Linked DNA regions of Homo sapiens: region 1 is reported to be linked to region 2. Evidence: microRNA targets listed by miRTarBase, many of them from high-throughput screens and not tested one by one. Region 2 holds a microRNA gene; the other region holds the end of a gene's coding sequence.
What was found. The annotated mature microRNA hsa-miR-6874-3p reads CAGUUCUGCUGUUCUGACUCUAG and lies in region 2 at 5,315-5,337, opposite strand. An mRNA with a match to its seed (bases 2 to 7 or 8) in the 3' UTR can be bound and repressed. Matches are read on the target gene's strand: a 7mer-m8 pairs with bases 2 to 8, a 7mer-A1 pairs with bases 2 to 7 and ends in A, and an 8mer does both.

Region 1 (7,000 bases), not on the chromosome of region 2:
CCAAAATGTCAGATAAACCTCCTGCTGACACCAACCAGATGCTGTCGCTCTCCAAAAAAGCTCTGGCAGGGACTTGTCAGAGGCCATTGCTACCTGAAAGACCTCTTGAGAGAACTGACTCCAGGCCCCAGCCTTTAGATAAGGTCAGAGACCTCGCTGGGTCAGGGACCAAATCCCAATCCTTGGTTTCCAGCCAGAGGCCACTGGACAGGCCACCAGCAGTGGCAGGACCAAGACCCCAGCTAAGCGACAAACCCTCTCCAGTGACCAGCCCAAGCTCCTCACCCTCAGTCAGGTCCCAACCACTGGAAAGACCTCTGGGGACGGCTGACCCAAGGCTGGATAAATCCATAGGTGCTGCCAGCCCAAGGCCCCAGTCACTGGAGAAAACCTCAGTTCCCACTGGCCTGAGACTTCCGCCGCCAGACAGACTGCTCATTACTAGCAGTCCCAAACCCCAGACTTCAGACAGGCCTACTGACAAACCCCATGCCTCTTTGTCCCAGAGACTCCCACCTCCTGAGAAAGTACTATCAGCTGTGGTCCAGACCCTTGTAGCTAAAGAAAAAGCACTGAGGCCTGTGGACCAGAATACTCAGTCAAAAAATAGAGCTGCTTTGGTGATGGATCTCATAGACCTAACTCCTCGCCAGAAGGAGCGGGCAGCTTCACCTCATCAGGTCACACCACAGGCTGATGAGAAGATGCCAGTGTTGGAGTCAAGTTCATGGCCTGCCAGCAAAGGTCTGGGGCATATGCCGAGAGCTGTTGAGAAAGGCTGTGTGTCAGATCCTCTTCAGACATCTGGGAAAGCAGCAGCCCCTTCAGAGGACCCCTGGCAAGCTGTTAAATCACTCACCCAGGCCAGACTTCTTTCTCAGCCTCCTGCCAAGGCCTTTTTATATGAGCCAACAACTCAGGCCTCAGGAAGAGCTTCTGCAGGGGCTGAGCAGACCCCAGGGCCTCTTAGCCAATCCCCGGGCCTGGTGAAGCAGGCGAAGCAGATGGTCGGAGGCCAGCAACTACCTGCACTTGCCGCCAAGAGTGGGCAATCTTTTAGGTCTCTCGGGAAGGCCCCAGCCTCCCTCCCCACTGAAGAAAAGAAGTTGGTAACCACAGAGCAAAGTCCCTGGGCCCTGGGAAAAGCCTCATCACGGGCAGGGCTCTGGCCCATAGTGGCTGGACAGACACTGGCACAGTCTTGCTGGTCTGCTGGGAGCACACAGACATTGGCACAGACTTGCTGGTCTCTTGGAAGAGGGCAAGACCCCAAACCAGAGCAAAATACACTTCCAGCTCTTAACCAGGCTCCTTCCAGTCACAAGTGTGCAGAATCAGAACAGAAGTAGTACCAATCAATGTCACATGAACAAACAAGCTGCCCCCAGGGTACCATTTGGGGAGGGGAAATCTTTTCTTTCTTTCCCCCTTAAAAAAAAACACATCTGCCCCGAACACTTTCCCACTGTTATTCTTTCCTCATATCCCAACACTCAGAACTCTTGTGACATTAGCCAGTGGGGGCTTATGGTTGTGTGAACCATGTATGAAAATCCAGTGGGCCCCAACCAAGGAGACAGACAGACTTGGGTCTCTTTCCCCCAACTTTTCCACATGGTCATCGTGAAATAAAAAGTCCACTCTGGAGTCAAGTATGGAATTCAATTCCGCTGGTCAGGTTGGAAGGTATAGGGGCTCTCAAAGCGATTTCCCCAACCAGACAGAGCCCCATTGAGGGCACCTAGGAACCCTTGGGAGGAAATGGTGTTCTTTCAAATCAGTGGCGATTTCCTGAGCATTCACGTGTTCTAGGCCGGGTGCTAGTCACTGATGAGAGATACAGGCCTCATCCCTGTGAGCCTGGATTCCAAGGCTTTCAGGAACCTTTGACCAGGAAGTAACAGGAAGTTCTGAGGGGCCCTGGGGCTTTAGACTCATTTTGAAATGTCCTTTGTGGCACCAGAAGTGGTTGTGTTGAGGAAGTGTCTCTTGGCTGCGGTGTGCATGGGTGCGTGTGCATGCGCGCACACTCACAGAGGTCTCCTCTATAGATGCAAGGGTGCTGCATTGAGGCCAGCAAGGCTGTTGGCTGTGGGGTCGCCGCTGCTGCTTTTGTCTGGGCTGTGCAGAGTCTCAAGATCAGTCCTTGGAGGAGCAGGTGGTCAGGGGCAGTCGGGCTCTGTGCGAATGTAGATTTCCAGCAGTGGAAGAAGGCATTTGGCAAGCTTCTCTTTCTTTGCTTTTGTTTCTACCTATTTTTCTCTTTGTACATGAATCCACCCCATCCCTATTTCCCTAAAACACTCAGGTGCTTTCAGATTTCAGAGCCTCGGGCAGTGGACATAGGGAATCTCTGGCAAGCTCTGAGCTAGACACACCAGCTTCAGGAAGAGTACCAGATCCTGATGGGAAATTTCTTTTCCCCATTCCTTTTCCCTCCTGAGTGGAGGGAGTCCTCTTCTTCGCCTCCCTGAGAATTGCTGTGCTCTGTATTGAGAGCACCTGCCTGCTGACTTAGCTCAAAGGCAAGCCAGAACCCTTCCCTGAAGACTGGCAAGAGGTGGTGTTTAGAGCAACGTCCAGGCTAAGAGATGACTCCTATTAACTGCTGATTATCTGTTACTGCTGCCCTGAGCTGGGGCCCAAGGGCTGGGAAATCTGTTGGTGCTACCCTGCCCTACCATTCACCCAGCTCACAGACTGCCAACAGGAAGTGCTGTTTGGCTAGTTTCCTCCCACTTGTCTACCCCTCCTTTGTCCTTAGACCAACATGTTTACCTCTCTGCTTTGCCAACTTAGCCAGCAGGCCATCCCCGGCCCTAACGTCTCCTGGCCATTATCTCTTAGTTATGGCTTTCACGCTCTCAATAGGATTCTGTATTTGGTCCCAATTTCCTCAAGTTCTTATTGAGGTTACTCCCATCAATTCCACGGAGGGAACAGTAGTTATTATAGAAGCATTTGCGCTTTATCTAAAGATTAAAAATAGAATCTGCTTTTATTTCCCAAAGTCTGTCTCTGAGGTTGAGACACTTGAACTCAGGCAGAGGGACGAGGCTGGGCAGGGCTGTCCTGAGTTTAGGGGCCTATCCCTGCATTTCACTGAGACCTCGGAATCTCCTCTGTGAATTCCACCTGCCTAGTTCTCCCCTTTCATCCTCTCTCTCTTCCCACATCATCAAAGAGGAAAAGCTCTTTGTTCAAAAGGAAGAGAAAACGTAAAGCATCTTATTTTCTTTTAAAAGAATTTTAAACCATGAAAAAGATATTTTTAAAGAAATTCACCGAGAACATTAAAGTTCATTATATTAAGTATTTATCATGTGTGAGAATAATAAATATATAACTGCAGCTAGTAGGTCCCTTTCCCTAATCTTTTAGGTCATATGAGTAGGGTTTGCTTGGTGCCAGTCCTGTGCCCTTTTCTCTCCAGTCATCTGTAGTTGTGATCAGAAAAAGGTATCTGCACTGCACTGTCAGAGTCTCCTTTCACTATGTTGTGTGTTAAATTACCGTAGCTCTTTGTTTCATGAAATAAACTGTGAATTTGGGGGGGGCGGGGGGAGGGCGTGCAGGCCATGTAAAAATTTTCCGTGGAGAAGTTTGATTCTAAAGTAGCTTCTCTAAAGTAGGCTTTGGTAGGTAATCAACTTGACAGCAGTCTAGATGTCTCACAGGACAGGAGGGAGTGAGGGAAAGGGGCCATGATTGGCTGCTTTGTGGTTTTATTTTGGTTCTTTCCATTCTCCGCCATTCATTGGAGGCTTCGTTCCAGACCTGCCTGGGAAAACAGCTTCTGAGCCATTTTGGGGAGCAGTTCTTCATCTGAATGGATGGACATCTGGGCTTCCTTCAAGGGCCATTGAATGGGAACTAGAAAACCACTGGAAACTAGAAATTTGAGCTATTGGGCCCACCAGTAGCAGCATGTGATACTAGATGGTTAAAATCATGAAAGCAGTCACTATCCAATTAGAAGCAGAGTCACAACAACTGTTGGGAAATGTGACTCTTGGAGGAAGGTGGGGAGGGAGTGGCCTTGCCAGCCCTGTGGGACGTCCCCTGAAGTTTGTAATAAGACCCCTTTTCCAAAGGGATGTGAATTGGAGTGAAAAGGAAATCTTTCATCTTAGAAAACTTCTGGTCCTTAACGCAGGGTGGTATTTGGGTATGTGCTTGGAAATTGAGATCTCAAGAGTGTTTGCCTTGGAGCCAGCTCCCCAGGAGGCCTTTTCCAGGGACAAGGCAAAAGTTGAAATTCTCCATGGGTAGCTAGAAAGCCAATACATCTAGCCCTGCTAAGTCAGAAAAAGATTATGAAAAATGTTGAAATTTACATTCAAAGCCTCATTTGCTTATCTTGCTGGAGCCAACCCAGTCTAATAGCAAAATAGCTGTCATTGATACAGAAACATCCTCATTTTTAAATGTCTGCTTTACCCTGTTACTGAGTTTGAGATGACTTAAATCACTGTGTTGACCCTCTTCTGAACCAAATCTTTAGCATTGATGAAAATAGTTATTTTATTCTTTACATCCTTCACCCCACACTATGGTCAGGGCATGAAACACCCTGTTGATCCCTTCCCAGGCTCGGCACTGTCTGCTCACTGGAGCCGGACTCCCAGGTTGTAATTCTAATGTTGCCTCATGAGAACAGAATGGCAGAAAGTTTAGTCCTGACAGATTCCCCCATAGGGAGTAATGAGGACAGCATGAAACTTGGATAGGTTTTACCCTTAGTCCCTATAAGGTGGATTTTACTAAGGTTTTTTAAATGATACTGTCATCCTCTTGGGGTTTATCAGCCAGGTTAGAGGAGCCCAGTGTCCTAACCTCTCTCAGATCATGGCAGAGAAGGAGCTGCCTCCAGCCCCTTTCTTGCTGAGTTTCATTTGAGCAGTTCCATGTGTAGACATTCCAAGTCACTGCTTGGTAGTTGCTGTGGGAGCCTGTCATTGGCTATGGCCAGTTAGTTCTCAGCTGAGCTTCCTAGGGCCAGTGCAACAGGGCCAGAGGCTGCTATAGTGTAAATTGAAATAAGAATAGATCATTGTTTTGTACACACACACAATAAAATGTAATGATGGTGCTAATTTCACGGTATAAATAAGCACTGCCAAGGGTTGAGGGACTGGCAGCTCAAGAAACCCGGGTTCCTGTTTGGGAGGAGATTTTATGTAGAAAAGTTTGAGGCTTTGTTAAAAGTGGGGAGAAGGAAGATCCTCAGTGAAGCCTGCACCCAACCCTGGAGTGGCCCAGTGCAATCCAGAGGTGGAAGAGATCCTATATCCAGGTGAAGGTGGCCATTGAGTTTCTCAGGGCTGGGGCCACCTTGTCCATAGCCTCCGTCCACGCTGCCTGGAGCAGGTTGTTAGAGAGCTCTGGTTGTTGGGTCTTCCTCAGCTCCCTTCTGCCCCTCTCTACCTCTTCCACTCATGGAAGCCCCTCTACTGCTTATGAAGATTAAGGGTAGTATTTTCTAAGGAAGTGGAAAGAATTAAACTAGAAATCCACAACCTCGGAAGAAGTGTTTCGAGTTTAACATGCGCTGTTTCTGCTTATGTGGTTCCTTCTCTAGAGCTGCTTTCCCATGGCTTTCAAAACATCAGGTTATTGTGGGGCTTCAGGTGTAAGGTCCTGGAAGTTCAGCAAAGTTTCGTGGACAAGACATGGGCACAGAGAGTAGAAGCAGAAATAAATGGTTCTATGTTTTCAACTTCCAGGGTTGGGGCAGGCCAGAGCAAGGCGGTCTCATCGAGGTGGGTGCTACCTGTGTGTGTGTAGATGAGTGTGCTGAAGGTGGGGAGGGCAGCACACAGCAGCTCATGGCAGAGCCGCCTCCTAGGTCTTGGCAAAGAGGCAAGCTGACGATAGACATCTACCTATATTGTTAAGAAAGGGGTCGGGGGGATCAGCCAAGGTCCATCATTGCTTTTTTGCCGCGCCCCCCCCCCCCCGCCCCCATAGATTGTCAGCTGTAAGTGAAACTCCTAGTGAAAAAGAGGGGAGCCCTGTGTTAGGAGTCCCCATAAACATGTACTGTAATTCTTTGTATATAGAAAAAAAATTTACTGTAAAGTAAAGTTTAACTTTACTCATATATGGCCCTTGCCCTGTGTTTTGTTTTATTGGCTGTGGGGAGTTGTAGTCTAACAGGAGGGAGGATTGTTTGGGGTGAGAGCAGAAGCCAGCCCCAGAGATAGTACGAGGTGGGGGGCGGGGGGCGCAGGGATACTGTGAAGCTAAGCCCTTCCTCCAAGCACGTCATGGGAATAGTGTGTTTCCTCTCAGCAGCCACAGGGCTGCCCAAGCCTCTTTCTCCCTCTGTTGGGAGTGGCTGGTTTCAGTTTCAGTCTCCCTCCACAGGAAGCCCCCATCACTCATGAAGGAAGGGCAGTTTGAGGAATTGGTTTTTAAAAAGGAAGTGGAACCAAAGCACTCTCTGAGTGTGAGTCTGACCATGTTGGCTAAGTTGTACATTTTTCCAAGGCAGGTGTTGGCCACTGCAGAGGACTCAGCCCAGGCCTAAATAAAGGCAGGAAAGCAGAGGCAAAGGATAAAACTAAGGGAAAGCCCCTGGCCTGGGGCCACACCCTCCATACCAGAAAGGGCTGCAATAAATTTCCTTCTGGTTGAGCAGCAAGTGTCAGCCCTGTTTACAGTTAACACCTGATTCCTCAGAAATATCTGGATCTTCTTTGGGGAAAACTTGGGAGTTTGCTTCCCTTTGTGACCTAGTCCTGAACTTCCTGCCCTTTCAGCAAAAAGTGCTTGGGAAGATTGGGAAAAACATTTAGTACTAGAGTTACTCTTCACTTTCTTCACAATCCTTGGGCTGCATAGTAGTCACCTTATTTTACAGATGAGAAACTCAAGATGAGGATTTAAGTCCCTTTTCTAAATTAGCAGCTGAATTGGAACCAAATCTGGATCCATTAGACCTTTCTGGCTTACAGAACTTAGGACTTTCCTACCATTAAACCACATTGTAGGATGT
Region 2 (8,812 bases):
CAAGGTGGTTTATCTGTGTTGTTAGTATGTGCCAGGAGTTCCTTCTTTTCAAAGGCTGCATAATATACCAAATTTTAACCATTCATCTGTTGACGAACATGTCAGTAAGTGGTTTCCATCTTGTGGCTACTGTGAATAATGCTGCAATGAACACAGGAACATGCTGAGATCCTTTCCCAAAGGATTTCAATTCCTTTCCACCGGCTGCCTTTTCACTCTGTTGATGGTTTCCTTTGCTGAAAGCATCTTAGTAGTCACTTGCCTGTTTTTTGCTTTTGTCACCTTGTTTTTGGTATTATACCCAGGAAATCATTGCCAAGACTGATGTCATGAAGCTTTCCACCTACGTTTTCTTCTAGTTTTTATAGTTTCAGGTCTTACACTTAAGTCTTTAATCCATTTAAAGAGTTGATTTTTGTGTTATGATATGAGATATGGTATCAGCGTCTAAGTTCATTCTTTTGCATGTGGATATTCAGTTTACAGAGCACCATTAATCAGAGACTACCTTTTCCCCCGGTGGGTGTTCTTTGCACCCTTGTTGAAGATCAGCTGATCATAAATGTGTGGATTTATTTCTGAGCACTGTATTATGTTCCATTGGTCTACATGTCTGCCTGTTTAAATTACTGTAGCTTTGTAATAAGTTTTGAAGTCAGGAAGTGTGAGGCTTCCAGCTTTGTTCTTCTTTCTTAAGACTGTCTAGGATATTTGGGATCCTTTGTGGTTCCATATGCATTTTAGGGATGTCTTTCCATTTATTTATGTCTTCTTTAATTATTTCAGCAGTTTTTTATAGTTTTCAGTGTATAAGTCTTTACCCACTCCTTGGTTAAGTTGTTCCTAAGTATTCCAACTTTTTTGATGTATTATAAATTAGATTTTCTTAATTTCTCTTTTTGGAGTGTTTGTTAGTGTACAGGAACGCAACTGATTTTTATGTGCTAATTTTGTATCCTGCACCTTTACTGAATATATTAATTCTAACAAGTTTTTTTGTGGAAATTGCAGATTTTTCTATGTATAAGATCATGTTATCTGTGAACTTGCACGGATATAGATGCTTTTGCTTTTTCCTGCCAAATAGCTCTAGCTAGGGCTTCCAGTGTTATATAGCATGGAAGTGGTGACAGTGATATCCTTGCCTTGTTCCTGATCTTAGTAAAAAAAAGCTTTTCAGTGTGTGTGTGTGGTTTTTTTTTTTTTTTTTTTTTTTGTGACAGAGTCTCACTCTGTCGCCCAGGCTGGAGTACAGCGGCACAATCTCTGCTCACCGCAACCTCCACCTCCCTGGTTCAAGCGATTCTCTCCTGCCTCAGCCTCCCAAGTAGCTGCGATTACAGGCGCACGCAACCACACCCAGCTAAATTTTTGTATTTTTAGTAGAGACAGAGTTTTGCCATGTTGGCCAGGCTGGTCTCGAACTCCAGAATTCAGGTGATCCACTTGCCTCGGCCTCCCACAGTGCCAGGATGACAGGTGGGAGCCACCATGCCCGGACAGTGTGTTTAGTTCTCATACTTTGTGAATTTTCTTGCTGTTTGTGATTTCTAAGTGTATCGCCTTGTGGCTGGAAAAGATACTTGGTATGATTTTGATCTTAAATTTGTTAAGACCTGTATTATGATCTAATATTCTCCATCCTGGAAAATGTTCCATGCGCAACAGAGGAGAAAAAGTGTTTTCTGTGCCTGTTGGCTAGAATATTTTGTATGTGTCTGTTAGGTCTATAGTGTTGTTCAAGTCAGCTGTTTCCTTACTAATCTTCTGCCTGGTGGTGCTAACAATGATTGAAAGTGAGGTATTGCAATCTCCTACTATTTTTGTGTTATTTTTCCCTTCGGCTGTCAATATTTGCTTCACATATTTGGGTGCACTGATGTCGGGTGCATATACAGATGGTCTCCAACTTACAATGGTTTTACACTTTTTGACTTTACTGTGGTGTGAAAGTGATACACATTCAGTAGAAACTGTAATTCAAGTACCCATACAATCATTCTCTTTTTCACTTTCAGTACAGTACTCAATAAATTACATGAGATACTCATACTTTATTCTAAAATAGGCTTCCTGCAAGAAGATTTTGCTAAATCGTAGGCTAATATAAGTGCTCAGGCTTTTGTTTTCCTTTTTTCAGGAGCTTGCAAGCTCTTGCTTCTTCTGGTGCCTGTCTGAGGTATCACAGGCCCTCTGGAGCTGCTGTAAGCTGCCCAGCTCTTTTTTGGCCTCAGCAGCTCCAAGGCATCTAGAGTAGGTTGGGTTCTGCCAGCAGTGAGTTGGGTGAGACAGAAGCCAGTCCCTCAGGCAGCCCCTTGAGAAGCCCAAATGCTGAACACATGCTCTACTCTTCCCCTGGACCCAAAAAGCAGCCTTCGAGGTGCACTGGACTCTGCCTACTGTACCGTGGGTCCTCTGGCGCAGTACAAACCACCCAGCTTTCTCTTGTTCTCAGCAGCCCCCAGGGACCTAGACCATGCCAGGTCCCATCAGTGCTTCATCGAGTGAGACAGGAACGAGAGTCTTGGGCAGACTCCAGAAAACCTAGAATGCTGGACTCATGCTCCAACTCCTTCCCTCCCGAGAAGAGCAGGGAGAGGGCAATGAGGAGTCAGTACGTGCTAGTTTCACCATCCCATTTGTCCTCAGAGGTCCCCAACCTGGTGCCCTTTCCTGTGAGACAAGACAGAAACCAGTCCCTTGAGCAGCCTCCTGAAAGGTCTGAATATTAGATATATGTTCCAGTCTTCTTTTTCCTCCCCAGAAAGATGCCAGGAGTTGGGAGCTTCCTCCCAATCACATGGTGCTGTGCCAGGGGGAGGAACTCTGGAGAGCCAGCGTCACAAATTCCCCAGCCTTTGATGCAACTGGTTTCTGGATTTCTCACAGAGAGAAATGGTCCTTCCGTTGTTGTTGAACTGTTCTCTCTATGGGAAAAAGAGGGTCTGGAGCTTTCTCTTCTGTCATCTTGACACTACCCCACACCACATGCCTTTACGGCTTTTTCTGCAAGTGATCTAACTACTCACATGTTTCACTGACCACAAGAAGCTACATGGCTACCTTCAAGTTCAGCAGGCCATGTATATTCCTCCCATAGACAAACAAAAACATATGTGGTGTTCCTATTTGGGATCTTAAGAGCCCCTGGGAAGCTCCCACCAACATGCCAAGTTGATACTCACTAGATGCTGTTCCAGACTCATGTGTGCCCTCAGGCTTTTATTTTTTAAATTTTTTTCTTTTAAAGACAGAGTCTTAGTCTGTTGTCCAGGCTAGAGTGCAGTGGCGCAATCATGGCTCAGTGCAGCCTCAATCTCCTGGGCTCAACTGATTGTCCTGCCTCAGTCTCTTAAGTAGCTAGGACTATGGGCACACACCACCATGCCTAGCTGAGTTTTAAAATTTTTTTTGTAGAGATAGGGTCTATGTTGCTCAGGCTGGTCTCGGACTCCTAGTCTCAAGAGATCCTCCTGCCTCAGCCTCTCAAAGTGCTGGGATTACAGGCATGAGCCACTGGGCAACCAATGCAGCTGCTTTTAAATGTCTTCAGGCTGGGGGTGGTGGCTTACACCTGTAATACCAGCACTTTGGAAGGCTGAGGTGGGCGGATCACTGGAGGCCAGGAGTTCAGGACCAGCCTGGCCAACATGGTGAAACCTCATCTCTACTAAAAATATAAAAATCAGTCAGGCGTGGTGGCGCATACCTGTGATCCCAGCTACTTGGGAGGCTGAGGCAGGAGAACTGCTTGAAGCCAGGAGGCGGAGGTTGCAGTGAGCTGAGATCGTGCCACTGCACTCCAGCCTGGGCAACAGAGTGAGACCCTGCCTCAAAACTTAAAAACAAAAACAAAAACAAAAAACGTCCTCAGAGAATAATGGTCTCTCCTCTTCTTTGGCCTTCCCAATTGTACATAAGCACTTTCACTGGCAGACCTTCTTTGAAACCTTACCAGGAAATGTAGTTCCCAGCTCCTTCTAAGCAACTCATGAAGACCCAAGAGGCTGTGCAGTGCTGTACATTTCTCACCTGGACTACTCAATAGGCAAGTAGACTTTCCTTATATTTTATCTCTCCCCACCTCAGGACAGTGTGCTGCATGGGCCTGCCCCTACTCAGCTTATGAGCCTCCTTCACACTCCTAGCACCAGTAAGCGTCCACATTGCTGCCACTCCCGGGGCCTAGAACATTTCTCCATCTCCACTCCACTCCCACCCTTTCCATCCTTTGGCTACTTCCTCCTTATCTGCTGCATCTTAGCGTAGGCATCACCTCCCCAGGCAGTCCAACACCTGACCCACTGGAAGCACACAAGGGACACGCTAGCACTCTGCTTTCTTAAGAGCTGCAAGATGCCAGCGACTGTTGTGACAATTGTTATAGCAACAGCCTGGGGTGCGAACATATAAAATGGCCAGAAATATTAATGCTGAAAACAAAAGAAATAAAGTTTTGATCCATTAGTTTAGTTTATTCTTCCTTTTCTAATCTCTACCTTAATTTCTTTACTCTCCCCAAGGCAAAGATATTGCAGTGTTCAACTCTAATCATGCAATTTTAGAAAAATGGCTTAGAGCGTATTTGTCTAGGTGGATGCTAATATTCACTAAAAACTCTAAGTGGCTTCTAAATAGCTGAAAGATTTTAAGACATTCTTAGTTCACAGGGCGCCAAGTTAAAGGGAACAAAGATCTGCAACAGTAATGCACCTAGACAGCTCTGCTCCCACGTAATATAGTCAGTTCTCATGAGGAGAAACAGTCAAATAAATAACCTACCAGATGTGATGGAGATGCCACTAAGATGCCCAGTTCCTCAATCAAAGAAGCGTCGTTTGGACTTTGAAAATGGCAAAAGGTGTGTGTGTGGGGAGGGAGGGGTAGCAGGGGCTATTTGAGCACAGGTGGTGAAGAGAGCAAGCAAGAAAAATGTTGACACAGTGGAAGAAAAACTAAACACTTCCCACTTTACATTATAGTATCTGTCCTAAAGAAGATGATATAAAATAGGAATCCAGAGCTTTGTAACTGGAGTGGCAAGAGTGGCTGCCATCTCAGTAACCATGTCAACCGTTACTCACAAAGTACTCGTCCTCATTTGCTTATGAAAAGGAAAGCACTCAAATCCTTCTTATACATCAGCAGTCAGGTAAACAGCAGATATTTGGGCCATGAGGGCAGCCCATAATACCATAATTCAATATACATCTAGAAAAAAATGTGCCTCCCTACCTTTCGGCAGTGAGGATTAGGACAGCTGAACCTCTTCACATCACTGTCCAACAGAGCCGGAAAGCTACAGGACGGGCACCTAGAGTCAGAACAGCAGAACTGACATTACTTCAAACATTAAAGCCTGATCTGGTTCCAGCTCCATGTGGCTGTTCATATGAAGATGGAGTTTTGAGCTGGACATTCACATCCCCTTTATACTCCTTAGTTTTCCTTAAAAACACAGATTGAACCTCTTCTTTGTGCTGGCTCTTATCAGGAAACATAAGCACCACATGAGGTCCTGACTGAATATAAACCACTCAATAAACACGTCCCAACCTTAATGAGAACTCCTTGCATATACCGATTTCCCTCCAGCCCAGGGCACCATGATTGTATCTACGGGCCAGAAGATTTGGGGGTGCCAAGATATGTAGACAGAAGTTTGAGCTACAGTCTGGGCGCGGTGGCTCACGCCTGTAGTCCCAGCACTTTGGGAGGCTGAGGTGGGTGGATCATTTGAGGTCAGGAGTTGGAGACCAGCCTGGCCAACATGGCAAAACCTCGTCTCTACTAAAAATAAGCTGGAATGTGGTGGTGCACGCCTGTAATCCAGGCTACTCAGGAGGCTGAGGCATGAGAATTGCTTGAACTCAGGAGGCGGAGGTTGTAGTGAGCCAAGATTGCACCACTGTACTCCAGCCTGGGCGACAGAGCGAGAATCCACCTCAAAAAAAAAAAAAGAAGTTTGAGGGGCAGATTTTTCCATTAATAGAATTACTGGTTACTCAATGGTTCTGAGGCGTAAAAAATAAAAATAAATAAGTAAAATTATTGATAATCTTATTTCTCAGCAAGAAATGTCAAAAAACCTGGAAGATAAACACAATTTTCATCATCTGATGCAAGTGCCCAGGTAGTTTTCACAATGGGGAAGAGTTGGCAGATGGCACGCTCTGCCTGAGAACGAACCTGACAAGCTCGTCGGCGTAGGCTGCCGCAACCTCCTCCTCGGCTTTTCGCTCATAGTACTTATACAGGATGGTCTGGGGGAGCACCTTCTCCAGCTCACTGGTTGGGAACGAACACGTGCAGCTGCCTTCCATGCAGCTGAGCTCCAACTAGAAAAAGGCGAAAAGGCAAAGAAAAAAAAATCAATACCATTTATAGAAAAATAAAAAGCGTCAGTGGTTAAAAACATAGATCCTGAGACAACATAGCAAGGATCTCTCTGCCTGTTCATCTCTGAGAAATCACACTTAAATCATGGAAACCATGAAACAAAAATCCAGTACATCTTTGATATCACTAAAGGACCTCTATTAGCCCAAATCACAATCCACAAAGACTGAAAGTGGCGGAAGGGCAAATGGCTTAGCAGACCACACACAGAAGCCCATAGCTTAGGGTCTGAAAAGGAGATGCTGGGGAGAAGTTGTTCCCCTCTACAGATATTAGAAAGCTGGAGAACCTCTGGAAAGCAGAGCTGAGTGGTGGGGAGGGGCAGGGACTCAAAGTAATAAACTGAAAACAGGGACATGGGTGGAGCCTCTAGTTCCTACCCGCTTCAGAAGGAATTGGCTGACTCTGAGAGAAATGAGGAAGATCTCCTGAACAGCTGGACCACACGGCTCTGGACTGGAAACCACTCATAGAGGAGAGCAGAGCTGAGGGGTGGCCTGAAGTCAGAGTCTGAAATGGAGTCTGCATAATGAACAGAGAACTCTCCAGACCTTTCCTCCCCCTCAGTTTCAGAATGTTGGAAAATGGGCTCACACCCACCAGGCAGGAGGCAGACTGAATCACCCCAGGTAAGAGACTTCAGAGCCATTCAGGTTCATAATATAAAAGCTAACTGGCTCCTATGCACCTAGAGTCAAACTCACTGGTCTATAAGCCCCACTACTCACACAGCTTTCAAACAGCTCTTTAACATGAACAAAAAGTGTCAGACATGAGGAATGCTTCCCACATGAAAGACAAACACCAAAGAAAACAAATGGAAAAAGACGACATTTTAAAAATAACTAGCTAAAATTTATGAGGCATTTACCATGTGTCAAACAATAAGTTCATTAAACTCATCACCTCATTTAGCTTTCAAAACAATGCTATGATTATTTCCATTTTACAGAGGAAGAAACAGTGGCTTAAGGAATTTAAATTGCTCAAGATCACAGGGCTAGTATGGCTGATGGGGGCATGGCCCAATGCATTCTGCTTGACTCCAAAGGTCACGCTCTTTGAAAAAACATAAACTTTATTTATTTATTTTTCTGAGACAGAGTCTCGCCCTGTCACCAAGGCTGGAGTGCAGTGGTGCGATCTCAGCTCACTAAGCCTCCCGAGTAGCTGGATTACAGGCACCCACCACCACACCTGGCTAATTTTTGTATTTTTAGCAGAGATGGGGTTTCACCATGTTGGCCAGGCTAGTCTCGAACTCCTAATCTTGTGATCCACCCAACTTAGCCTCCCAAAGTGCTGGGATTACAGGCATAAGCCACAGCGCCTGGCCTATTTTTCTTTTTTAGAGATGGAGTTTCACTCTTGTTGCCCAGGCTGGAGTGCAATGGCACGATCTCAACTCACCACAACCTCTGCCTCCCAGATTCAACCAATTCTCCTGCCTCAGCCTCCCCAGTAGCTGAGATTATAGGCATGCGCCACCAGGTCTGGCTAATCTTGTATTTTTAGTAGAGATGGGGTTTCTCCATGTTGGTCAGGCTGGTCTTGAACTCCTGACCTCAGGTGATCCGCCTACCTCGGCCTCCCAAAGTGCTGGGATTACAGGCGTGAGCCACCCGGGCAAAAAGTCATCTTCTTAATCACTGTGTTAGTTTTCTATTGCTGCTGGAACAAAATACCACAAACTCGGTGGTGTAAAACAATGTAAAATTCCCATACTGTGTTTGTTATGCTGGTGTCCAGAGAAACTCACTTTGGAGAGAGAAATATGATCTTGTGTAAAGTAAGTTATGTTATTTTAATATATATTTAATCCAATAGGCTGCAAGGTTCTCTCTTTCTGAGGTAACCTTCCCTCTGAATACAAATAAGATGATGAACGAAGGAGGTGCTCCTCTGCGGCTAGGCGTGGGAGTGTGGAAGAATTCTACTGTGCCCTGAAAAGAAATCTGCTGTGCTCAGAGAACCCACATAATCACATACATCAGGTAATGTACACATAAGCATACCAGCAGAACTCCACCTCACCCTCAAAGAGGCACTTACACTTATCTATCAACATGGTCTCCTTAGACTCCAGGAATGTGTCCTATATACATGGGACATATTACACAGTTCTTACCTTTCCAGATCCAAAGACTGCCTCTTGGGCATATCTGATGAGACACTCTTTGCAGAACAAGTGAGCATCTGCGCACTGCGTCAGCTCCTCGAATGGAAATTCCCCATAGCAGCAGCGACACTCAATCAGCTGGCCATCCTGCAGGCAGTCAAGAAACACACATGAAATGTCCTGCACTTAAGGAGAGGGGGAGCCTTGTCTCCCATCCTCATCTCTCTGCCACCCCCCACACAAATTCTGAGGTAAAGCAACCCATTTTAGGGGCCATAAAACAATGATATGCTG

Region 1: miRTarBase lists NSD1 as a target of hsa-miR-6874-3p. Seed matches in the 3' UTR shown: 7mer-m8 at 1,495-1,501.

The regions. Positions count from the first base shown.
Region 1 is chr5:177,294,111-177,301,110 of GRCh38, forward strand. NSD1 (nuclear receptor binding SET domain protein 1) reads left to right here. Exons shown (of 23, transcript NM_022455.5): 23 at 1-6,103. The coding sequence ends at 1,349. Among named protein-coding and RNA genes, the nearest start is that of RAB24, 6.1 kb to the right of the region's middle. RefSeq lists enhancers at 1,590-2,091, 2,092-2,591, 6,260-6,369 and a silencer at 6,277-6,470.
Region 2 is chr7:5,706,526-5,715,337 of GRCh38, forward strand. It overlaps MIR6874 (microRNA 6874), which reads right to left and starts at 5,385; the gene lies at 5,315-5,385. It overlaps RNF216 (ring finger protein 216), which reads right to left. Exons shown (of 17, transcript NM_207111.4): 11 at 8,528-8,665; 12 at 6,190-6,338; 13 at 5,236-5,314. RefSeq lists an enhancer at 2,112-2,181.